2 separate regions of the Homo sapiens genome follow, and region 1 is linked to region 2. Evidence: fine-mapped expression QTL. A gene starts in region 2. The other region holds a variant in brackets. All regions are shown on one strand. Distances are from middle to middle. Region 1 overlaps FSTL3 (follistatin like 3). Region 2 holds the start of PALM (paralemmin).

Region 1 (5,360 bases), 25 kb after region 2:
CTCTGGGCCTCTTTTTCTCCATCTGTAAAACTGCTACACTATTAGTATCCAGTTGATGGTATCAGAGCGGATTCTAGATGGCAGGAGGGTAGGATGAGGGATTTTAGGGTGAGTATACGGGGAGCCCTCTCCAAGGAGAGCACCTTTGAGCTGAGACTTGAAGGAATCCTTAGAAGATCTGAGGAAACACACGCAAGGCAGAGAGACCTGTTAGTAGAGGGCTGCCGCGTACAGCTGTGTAGGTTGTGCACTGCCCAAAACACTGCAGACTCGAATGTTCACACAGGCAGCATCCAGCGCAGGGCAGGAACAGGTCTCCAGGCTATACAAAGGCCGTGGAGCACTGAGGAGGCTCAGCGGGGAGGGCAGAGAAGTGGGTGGGGGCTGGGTCCTCAGGGCCTGGAGGGGAGAAATGAATTTACTTTTTCCTTGGAGAGCAGTAGGGAGCCACAGAGGGTTCTGAGGCAGGGAGGGCCGTGGTGAGATGTGCCTGCAGCAGCTCCCAGAGGCCCTGACCTCACCTCTCCTTTCACTCCAGGCCGACTCCGGAGGGCCCCTGGTGTGCAGGAACCGGGCTCACGGCCTCGTTTCCTTCTCGGGCCTCTGGTGCGGCGACCCCAAGACCCCCGACGTGTACACGCAGGTGTCCGCCTTTGTGGCCTGGATCTGGGACGTGGTTCGGCGGAGCAGTCCCCAGCCCGGCCCCCTGCCTGGGACCACCAGGCCCCCAGGAGAAGCCGCCTGAGCCACAACCTTGCGGCATGCAAATGAGATGGCCGCTCCAGGCCTGGAATGTTCCGTGGCTGGGCCCCACGGGAAGCCTGATGTTCAGGGTTGGGGTGGGACGGGCAGCGGTGGGGCACACCCATTCCACATGCAAAGGGCAGAAGCAAACCCAGTAAAATGTTAACTGACTTCCAGCCTCACCCGTGGGCGGTCAGCTGCAGGGTCCACCGGCATTCGTGTCGCGGCTCGGTCCGCAGCCCCTTTCCACCTTCCCATGCCCCCCACCGTGAACCCCTCTGGGTCTACCCCTGCGCCCCTGCAACCCACACTCCTGCAGCCTCCCACCTGGAATGCCGTTCCTCCACCTCCCTCCAGCCGCCTAACCACACCGCAGGCGAGTCCGCTGGGAAACGGAGGCCAGGAAGCCCTGAGCTCCCTGTGCAGGGCGTGGGGGCTGCTGGACACCAGGGCGGGCTTGCACCGGCCGCGCCGAGGAGTCCCAAGAGGGTCTGGCCACACATCAAGCCTCGTGGTCATCCTCTGAAAACCAGAGAATAGCGCGGGGTGCACAGCAAGTCCCAGGTGATGTTATTGTCACAGTTTGTTATTGTGTTATTATTTTTTTATTTTTAGATTTTATTTTCTTTATTATTATTTTATTTTTTTATCTTTACTTATTTTTATTTTGGATGGAGTCTCGCTCTGTCCCCCAGGCTGGAGTGCAGTGGTGCGATCTCGGCTCACTGCAAGTTCCGCCTCCCGGGTTCACACCATTCTCCCGCTTCAGCCTCCCAAGTAGCTGGGACTACAGGCGCCCGCCACCACACCCGGCTAATTCTTTGTATTTTTAGTAGAAACGGGGTTTCACCGTGTCAGCCAGGATGGTCTCGATCTCCTGATCTCGTGATCCACCCACCTCGGCCTCCCAGAGTGCTGGGATTACAGGCGTGAGCCACCGCGCCCGGCCTATTATTTTTTTAAGATGACGTCTCACTCTGTCACCAGGCTGGAGTGCAGTGGCGCAATCTCGGCTCATTGCAACCTCTGCCCCTGGGTTCAAGCCATTCTCCTGCCTCAGCCTCCCAACTAGCTGGGACTACAGGCATGTACCACCACACCCGGCTAATTTTTTGTATTTTTAGTAGAGATGGGGTTTCACCATGTTGGCCAGGATGGTCTCGATCTCTTGACCTCGTGATCCGCTAGCCTTGGCCTCCTAAAGTGCTGGGATTACAGGCGCGGGTGAGCCACCGCGCTGGGCCTTTTTGTTGTTGTTGTTGTTATTATTATTATTATTATTATTATTTTGAGACAGAGTCTCACTCCGTCACCCAGGCTGGAGTCCAGTGGTGCGATCTCGGCTCACTGCAACCTCTGCCTCCCAGGTTCAAGCGATTCTCCTGCCTCACCCTCCCAAGTAGCTGGGACTACAGGTGCATGACACCACACCTGGCTAATTTTTTTTTTTTTTTTTTTGAGATGGGGTCTTGCTCTGTCCCCCAGGCTGGAGTTTAGTGGCACGATCTCGGCTCACCGAGATTGGAGTTTCACCATGTTGGCCAGGTCGGTCTCGAACTCCTGACCTCATGATTCACCTGCCTCGGCCTCCCAAAGTGCTGGGATTACAGGCATGAACCACCACGCCCGGCCAATTATGCTATTATTATTATTTTAGAAACAGTCTCACTCTGTCACCCAGGCTGGAGTGCAGTGGTGCCAACACAGCTCACTGCAGCCTTGACATCCTGGGCTCAAGCCATCTTCCCACCTCCGCCTCCTGAGTAGCTGGGACCACAGGAGCATGCCACCATGCCTGGGTCTTTTTTTTTTTTTTTTTTTTTTTTGTAGAGATGAGGGTCTCACTATGTTGCCCAGGCTGGTCTGGAACTCCTGGCCTCAAGTGACCCGCCCGCCTTGGCCTCCCAAAGCGCCGAGATTATAGGGGTGAGCTACCCCACCCGGGCCCTAATCCTGTTATTTTTATTACTGCTATCGTTACACCCAAGTCATTCAAGACC[G/A]GGCCTCCATTTCTGGGTCCCAAGCCAGCTGGTGTCTTAGGGCTGCCCTAAGCCATCTTGTCTATCCTGTGTGCCCTCCCAAAAGACCTCCTTTCTCTCCCTCCCCTCCCGCTCTGCCTCAGCCCCTCCCGGGCTTGTCCACTGCCTGGAGAGGCACTGAGGCCCAGAGGCGGCCAGAGGCTGCCCAAGGACTAATGCTGGGTCTCTCTTCCCGTGCCTCCAGAGCACCCATGCGGCACCCCAGGCCCCAGGCTGCCCATCCCACAGCCGTGGGGGCGGCCTGAAGCCTTGAGAGAGGAGACAAACTGAGGCCTGGACACCCCAAAATGGCTTGAGTCTTTATTTCCTTGGTGAGGCAGGGCCCCAGGGTGGGGTGGGCTGCCTGGCTGAGGCTCCTGTAGACCCACCAACCTAGGGGCACTTTTCTGGGCACCACAGGTAAGGCACTGCCTGGGGGCTGGAGGAGGCTGGAGGAGGATGCCCAAGCTCCCCACATTCCTCACCCCAGACCGGGGAAGCTGGATATCCTCCGTGTTGTCCTCTCCCCATAGCTGGTCTGAGGCTGTGGTTTACACGCAGGCACAGGTAGGCGATTCTGAGCATCAACGCAGATGGAGGGGAGGGTGAGCCGTCGTGGGAGAACTGGCCCAAGACCAGCACCTGGCTGGTGTCGCCAGCCCCGGCTGCATTGGTGGGTGAGGCAGGTCTGGCTGGAGTCTGGGTCTGCAGGCCTGGCCGGGGCAGGTTGTGGGGGACCAAGGAGCCCTGGGTGTGAACCCCACTGTGGAGGCAGCAGGCACCTAGTGGTGCCACTGGGACACCCGGCTCCAGGACTCCGGATGTCACACATGCGTGAGTCTTGGCGTCTACACCCCCCTCGGGGCCAGTGGGTGAGCAGTGGCCCGTGGTCCCCGCCAGAGCTCCCCCAGAGTGGACTTGGCTCCGCCGGACACAGTGCCCTGCTCTGAGCTGCCGCTGGCTGCTCCACGTCTGAGACCACGCGACGTTGCCTCATGAACTGACGTGGACAGCAGCAGGGGAGACGCTGGGTGGTTCTGTGGCCAAGCACAGCCCGTGTCAGGAGCACAGGCCGTGCCCTTTCCCAGGGGGCACACTGGGCATTTCTCAATGGCCTTCACAGGACGCAAAGGGGCACACAGAGGCAGTGGGGAAGCTGGAGTTCTTGGGCTGGCAGGGAATGGTGGCAGCCTTCTTGGCCTTCATGAAGGGCCTGGCTTGCTGGGCTAAGGTCACAGTGTTCTGAGGTCCCCACACGCACTCAGACTAGACCCTCCGTACACACCCAGGCTAGACCCTCCATACTCACCCAGGCTAGACCCTCCATACACACCCAGGCTAGACCCTCCATACTCACCCAGGCTAGACCCTCCATACACACCCAGGCTAGACCCTCCATACTCACCCAGGCTAGACCCTCCATACTCACCCAGGCTAGATCCTCCATACACACCCAGGCTAGACCCTCCGTACTCACCCAGGCTAGACCCTCCGTACTCACCCAGGCTAGACCCTCCGTACTCACCCAGGCTAGACCCTCCGTACACACCCAGGCTAGACCCTCCGTACACACCCAGACTAGAGGCTTGGGGCTGAGAAAAGCAGTCATGCCTCTTCAGGAATTACCAGCAGAGAATGCCCAGCCCTCTTGATAGTAGCAATAATTAATAGGTTTATCCCCAAAGGAGCGGAAGTGTGGAATCCTCCCCGGCAATAGGTCTTAGGGTAGGGGCTGGGGCATCCTAGAGAAGGGCCCTAAATCAGGCGCTCAGTGTCCGGAACGCAGGTCTATCCCACCCACCAGCCGGCCCCCAGGCCTCCCTTCCTCAGTCCTTCCAGGATATCGTCAGGGAGGTTCTGGGATCCCCAAGTGGTCCGAATCCGGGCTCTAAGGAGTGTCCGTGGCATATAAATTAGACTCTGCTGTGGCAATAAATAACAGGGGATGATGGGGGGCCTCGGGCACCAGGCCCAGGCCTGTCCTGCAGGCTCACACGAAGTTCTCTTCCTCTTCTGCAGACTCACCACCTGGCGGCTCCTCAGGGGTGCCTGCAAGGGTCGATAAGAGCATTGAGGGCGCAGGGCAGGGGGTTCTCCGGCCCCCAGGACAGGCCTGTGCCCCCGCCCTGCGTCTGCACCTGCGCAGCTGCCCGCGTGGCGCACGCCGATGGAGCGGCCCAGGAAGCAGGTGGCCTGGCGCATGTGGCACGAGGAGATGTAGGTGACGTTGTTGTTGCCGCAAAGCTCCTGGCCGGGGCTGGAGGGCACAGGGCAGGGCGCCGCTCGACACACCACGCAGTGGGCGCTGCCCGTCTGGTCCACGACGCACGACTGTGGCCGCGGGCACACCACGTGCTCACAGGACTCTGCAGGCCGGGTGCCAGGGGAAGTTCAGGGGACATCTCGCTGAGAACCCCGCAGGGCTCTTGGCCCCAAGACCCACCCTTAACCCCCAAGATGCGAAAACCCTCTGGTAGGAGACACAAGCACCCCCCCGCCCCCCGTGAGCCCCCCTCTCCATTCCACCCCTCAGGCTCCACCCACAAGCCCTGCCCTTCCCATTGTACCCAGGAGCCACACCTCTTTCGTGAGCTCCTG
Region 2 (5,360 bases):
TGTCGTCCCAGCTACTTGGGAGGCTGAGGCAGGGAAGTCGCTTGAGCCCAGGAGTTCGAGACTGGCCTGGGCAACATGGAAAAAAGAAAGAAACCACCTTCCCATGTTCCGCCACCTCCTGGACAGTATCTGTCTATTCCTTGCCTTCAAAACCACTCCAGTGTAAATCAAATCGCCTTGTTTTAGAAAGAAACATTATATTGTGATCAACACTGGGCAAACCAGAAGCCACCGCCACAAACAAGACAGCGGAAACATGGAGGAAGAAACAGATACAACGGAAGTAAAAGCTTGTTATTAAATTCAATTATCACTAGGTACTGTTGCCTTTTAACAGGCTCTGCCTCTCATTAAAAAGGGGGATTAGCAAGTGTGAAGGAGCGTTAAGGACCCAGTTAGCACCCAACGGAGACTTTCCTATTGAAAATTTCCAGGTCTGCGAGCAGGGAGGAGTCTGGGCCGGTCTTGACCATCTGTCCAGGCCCAAGTCTGTTCTCCTCCCTATCCCGGGGGTTTGAGCCTTGCCTGTACCCAGGACAGGGCTGTGGGTGCTGGAGAATGGCTGCTCCAGGCCAAAATATCTTTATTTTACCAGCCAGACCATGTGTCACGCAGGGGCCACACAAACCCTCCCAGAGCACAGAGATTCTCTCCGAAGCAGAGATTCTCCCCAGCTCCTTCCTGGACGTTCTCCTCACCTTGGCAGCATCGGCCCTGTGGTTAGCAACCCGCTAGTTCTCCTTAAATCCTCACATTAACAAAAAATAACCTGTTCTTGAATGACATTTAAAATTCTTTAAATTCTTAAATTCATTTGTGAAACTTTCCAGCGAGACGGGCACCACCACAAACCACAGCCAGCTCCCGTGTCTTCGACTGGAAAATCTGTGGAAACGGGAGGAGGCAAGCGATCACGTTCTAGCGGACGGGGCCTTCGTGCCTGAAGCCCGCCGGGGAGAAGAACGAGGGGGCAGGTGTCCAAGGCCGGGCGGCACCAGATGGGCCTGTCCCCACCCATTGTCAGCCCGGGAACCGGGGAGAGAGTCGTCCTCGAATGGCGGCTCACAGCAGCCGGTTAACACTGGGTGCCTGTCCCATGTCTGCATCCCCAAAAGCAATGATGACCCAATGGGGGACCTGTGGGCCACCCTCTGACCCAGGACGGAGAAACCGTGGAGCAGAGCAGGAGGCACCGAGGCCCCCCGGCCCCAGGTGCTGTGTGATGGAGGGGGGGTGGGGGGGGGGCAGCAGCTCCTCTCTGGGCCTCAGTATCCCCCGTGGGAAAGGAAGGGGTGGCAGGAAGGAAACAATGGGCCCGACCCGGAGTGTTCGCTGACACCCCTCCTCTGGGAGGGAGATCTCCGTCGTCCTCCTAGGCAGCCCCCTCCCCACAGCCACACCCTGCCCAGGCCTGGCTGTCAGAGGCCCAGAGGCTCCTCCGGGGCCTGGCGAGCAGGGCAGATAAACAAGGCTGGGGGGTGGGGGTGTGGAGCAGGCAAGTCTGGGCCCTGGCTCCCCTGAGCCCCTGGCTGAGCTCCCGGGGCGGGGTGACGGGGAGAGGGGTCAGGCCTTTGTCTGGGTTTTCAAAAGCAGAGGACACTGGGTGTCTCGCTTTCCCAGGGAGGGAGGGAGGCAGCGGCCCCCACCCAGCCGCGGGCGTGGCGGGTCACGGGTGAATCCCCGGGGAAAGTTGGCGGCTTAGAAAACACGCCCAGTGGGAAGGGCAGGGGGCCACAGGCGGCCTCCAGATCCGGTCTTCGGTCCTCGGGCTGGGGTGGGGACCCGGGCCTCAGCAGGGCAGCTGGCTCCCCTGTCCTGAAGTGGGCAGGTGGGTGACCCCAGGAGGAGCCTCCTGACCCCTGCCCGTGCAGTGCCCACCTGTGGGAGTGAGGGGCAGAGGGGCACCCGAGCACCGGGAGGAGGGGACCGGTGTCCGAAATGACCACGCGCCCTCGCTCGGTGCCTCCACTGGCCACCCCCCCCCCACACACACAGGCGCAGCCATGCGGGGGTCCAGGGATCCCAGCCCAGGGCCAGCCCACTCCTGTAGCTACACCAGTGGAGCCCCAGCTCCGAGACACTTCCCCGAGAGGGTATCCCACCCAGGCGCCCCGCTGGAAAACGCCGGTTCCTCTCCCTTCTCACACACCCCAGAGACCCGGGAAGCCGAGGGCAGCCCCTCTCCCTCCAGCGGTAACTCGGGACCTGCGCAGTGGCGGGGGGCTCAGGACACCCCTGGAGGCCCTTGGGAAGGGCGGGGGTGGGGGGCACCGGCCCGCGCGCGCGTCCAGGGCGCCAGGAGCCGTGCGCTCAGACTGGGGCGGGGGAAGGGTGCGTGAGCGCGAGGCCGGACCGGTGCAATCTGGGGAGGGGTCGCTCCATCTCCCCGGGGCCACCCACAGGTGGCCGAGAGCCGAGGCTCGCCCTGGAGACGCGGGCGGGGCGCGGGCGGAGACGCGAGCCTCCCCCTCCCCGCGTCCTGGACTGGCCCGAGCCGCCGCTGCCCGGGTCCCCACGCGCCGGTGGGTGGGCAGCCGGGGTCCGGGAGCGGGGAGGCCTCCCGGCAGGCGCGGCCCAGCCCGAGTCTCTTCCCGGCTGCGCTGCGGCCCCAGCAGCCCCGCGCCGCCTCCTGCTCCTCGCGGGGGCAGCGACGCCCCCAATGGGGCGCGAGAGAGGGGGCCTCCCCCCTCCCCGGCTCCCGGAGCTCCGGGCCCCCAGCCCCGCGGCCCGAGCGCGCCTACTCACTCCATCTCCCCGCCGAGGTCCGGGTGGGTCCGCGGTGCCGGGCGGGGGCGGGCGCGGGTGGCGCGCGGGGGAGGGGAGGGGAGGGGGACGCGGCCTGGCGGGGGCCGGGGCGGGCTAAGGCCTGGCGGCCGGGGCTGCGCGGCGCGGGGGCGGCGGCACCGGCTCGGGCATCGCCCCGCGCAAAGCTGCTGTTTATTGTCCGGGCGGCGGCGGGCGCGGGGGGTGGGCTGGGCGCGCGCGTCTCCGGCGCGCTCCCCTCTCCCTCCCGCCCGCCCCGCTCCCCGCCCCGCTCCCCTCCCACCTCCCCGCGCTGCGAGCGGGCGCTGCGCCTCCTGCCGGCTGCGCCGCCGCCGCCCCCCGCCCCGCGCGCCCCGCCCCGGGGCACCCCTGAGAAGGGCCTAGGTCTGGGCGCGGTGCTGGGACCCGGCTGTCACCAAGTCCCGCCCCTCCCCAGCTCCTGGGCCAGAGCCGGGACCCTCGCGAAGTCAGACAAGCAAAGGCCTTTCTCGAGAGCCCAGACGCCGAGAGGGACACACATTTCAGGGCGAGCGAGGGGATAGGGGGGTCCTGGGGAGGCCGCTGCGAGGAGCTGACAGCTCCCTGCACCCCCGGCCCCGCTCGCAGGGTCCCCAGGCCTCCTTTGCCGGAGTATCTGGTGGAGGGCGCTGTGCCTGCAAAGGCCGGGGGTTGGGGTGGAGACAACCGCAGGTGCTGATCTGTCTGTGCCCTGGCTGGGAGCTGAGCCTGGTCCCCGGGGCTGGAATTTAATCGGCCCCAGGGCCCCCATGGCACACTCACTAAAGGCCCAGCGACCAGACGACCAGAGTGAGTGAGAGGGACGGTGGAGAATCAGGGAGAGCTCAGGCTTTGTCCTCAGAGCACTGGGGAGCCACAGCAGGAGACAGGCAGGACCTGTCTTCCCCAACATGTAGGCCTTGGGCCCAGCTTCCTGGTTTCCCGTGAGAACACTGCAGACCAGCCCCAGCACACCTACTCATGGGGGTCCAGGGTGGGCAGGAAGGAAAGATTCTTCCAAACTTCTTAGTTTTCTTATAAAACGGTTCTCCTCTGCCGATGTTTGCTGAATGGCTGTAGATTTAAAGGAAAGTAGCCCCGGATGAGCTGTGGAGAAAGATACGGCAGGATGTACCCCAGGCTGAAGAAGGCCGTCAACACCTTTTCTTTATTCCTCCCTTTTTACAATGAATGTGTATTCATTTTAGCATTTAAGACAATAAGATAAATTAGCAAAGGTTAACAAAGCTAAGATCCTAAAGAATATCAGGGGTCCCGGGTCTGTCTGATTCCCAGCTCACCCATCTCCAAGCTGTGTGACCCTGGGTCTGTTTCTCAACCTCTCGGAGCCTTATTCCCCCCCACCCCCCTGCCCCCACCCTTAAGGCTGTGGGAGGGTTAACTGAGTGAGCACACACAAAGGGCTTGGCACAGGGCCCAGCACACACTAGCTCAGGGTTTGGCAAACTTTTTCTGTAAAGGGCCAGAGAGTAAATATTTTCAGCATTGCAGGCCACAGTCTCTGCGGCAATGACTCTGCTCTGCCATCGCAGAGTGAAAGTAGCCAGAGACAATATGTAAAACCATGGGCATGGCTCTGTGCCCATAAAACTTTATTTACAAAAACAGGCAGTGGGCCAGAGCTTATCCCAGGGCCGTAGTGTACTGACCCCTGCACTAGGCACCCAATAAAACTTTATTTACAAAAACAGGCAGAGGGCCAGAGCTGATCCGAGGGCCGTAGTGTACTGACCCCTGCACTAGGCACCCAATAAAACTGACCTGTGAGTCGTTTCTTCACTTCCCCTTGGCCTCTGTGTTCTTTTAGTCCAAAGTGATTTATTGAACACCTACTGTGTGCCTGGCACCGTTAGTCACCTGTGATGCAGAAGTTCCATTTTTGCGGCCAGGCGCCGTGGCTCACGCCTATAATCCCAGCACTTTGGGAGGCTGAGGCTGGTGGATCACGAGGTCAAAAGTTTGAGACCAGGCCGGGCGCGGTGGCTCACGCCTGTAATCCCAGCACTTTGGGAGGCTGAGGCTGGTGGATCATGAGGTCAAAAGTTAGAGACCAGCCTGGCCAACATGGCAAAACCACTTCTTTTTTTGGCTGGGGTGGACGGAGTTTCGCTCTTGTTGCCCAGGCTGGAGTGCAATGGCGCGATCTCGGCTCACTGCAACCTCCGTCTACCAGGTTCAAGCAATTCTCCTGCCTCAGCCTCCCTAGTAGCTGGGATTACAGGTGTGAGCCACCACGCTCGGCCAGTGAAACTCCTTCTCTACTAAAAATACAAAACTTAGCTGGGCATGGTGGTGCGCGCCTGTAATCCCAGCTACTGGGGAGGCTGAGGCAGGAGAATGGCTGGAACCCGGGAGGCAGAAGTTGCAGTGAGCAGAGATCGCGCCACTGCACTCCAGCCTGGGTGACAGAACAAGACTCCATCTCAACAAAACAAAACAAAACAAAACAAAAAAGAAGTTCTGTCCTTGGAGAGACGGTGATTTTTGTCCCCTACATAAATGATTCAGGGTGAATGAAGTGACTGTTACATGTAATCCCAACACTTCAGGAGACTGAAGCAGGAGGATCACTTGAATCC

The links. PIP is the estimated chance that this variant, and not a neighbour inherited with it, causes the effect.
Region 1: its variant is fine-mapped to the expression of PALM in adrenal gland (GTEx, PIP above 0.99).

What each region holds. Positions count from the first base shown.
Region 1 is chr19:681,101-686,460 of GRCh38, reverse strand. It overlaps FSTL3 (follistatin like 3), which reads right to left. Exons shown (of 5, transcript NM_005860.3): 4 at 4,901-5,128; 5 at 3,076-4,811. The coding sequence ends at 4,753. PRSS57 (serine protease 57) reads left to right here. Exons shown (of 5, transcript NM_001308209.2): 5 at 539-915. The coding sequence ends at 745. Among named protein-coding and RNA genes, the nearest start is that of FSTL3, 7.4 kb to the right of the region's middle. RefSeq lists enhancers at 4,430-4,978, 4,979-5,360 and a silencer at 5,349-5,360. The variant G/A (reference allele first, on the strand shown) is at 2,745.
Region 2 is chr19:706,537-711,896 of GRCh38, reverse strand. PALM (paralemmin) reads right to left here and starts at 2,962. Exons shown (of 9, transcript NM_002579.3): 1 at 2,746-2,962. The coding sequence starts at 2,750. RefSeq lists a silencer at 3,716-3,952 and an enhancer at 3,405-3,965.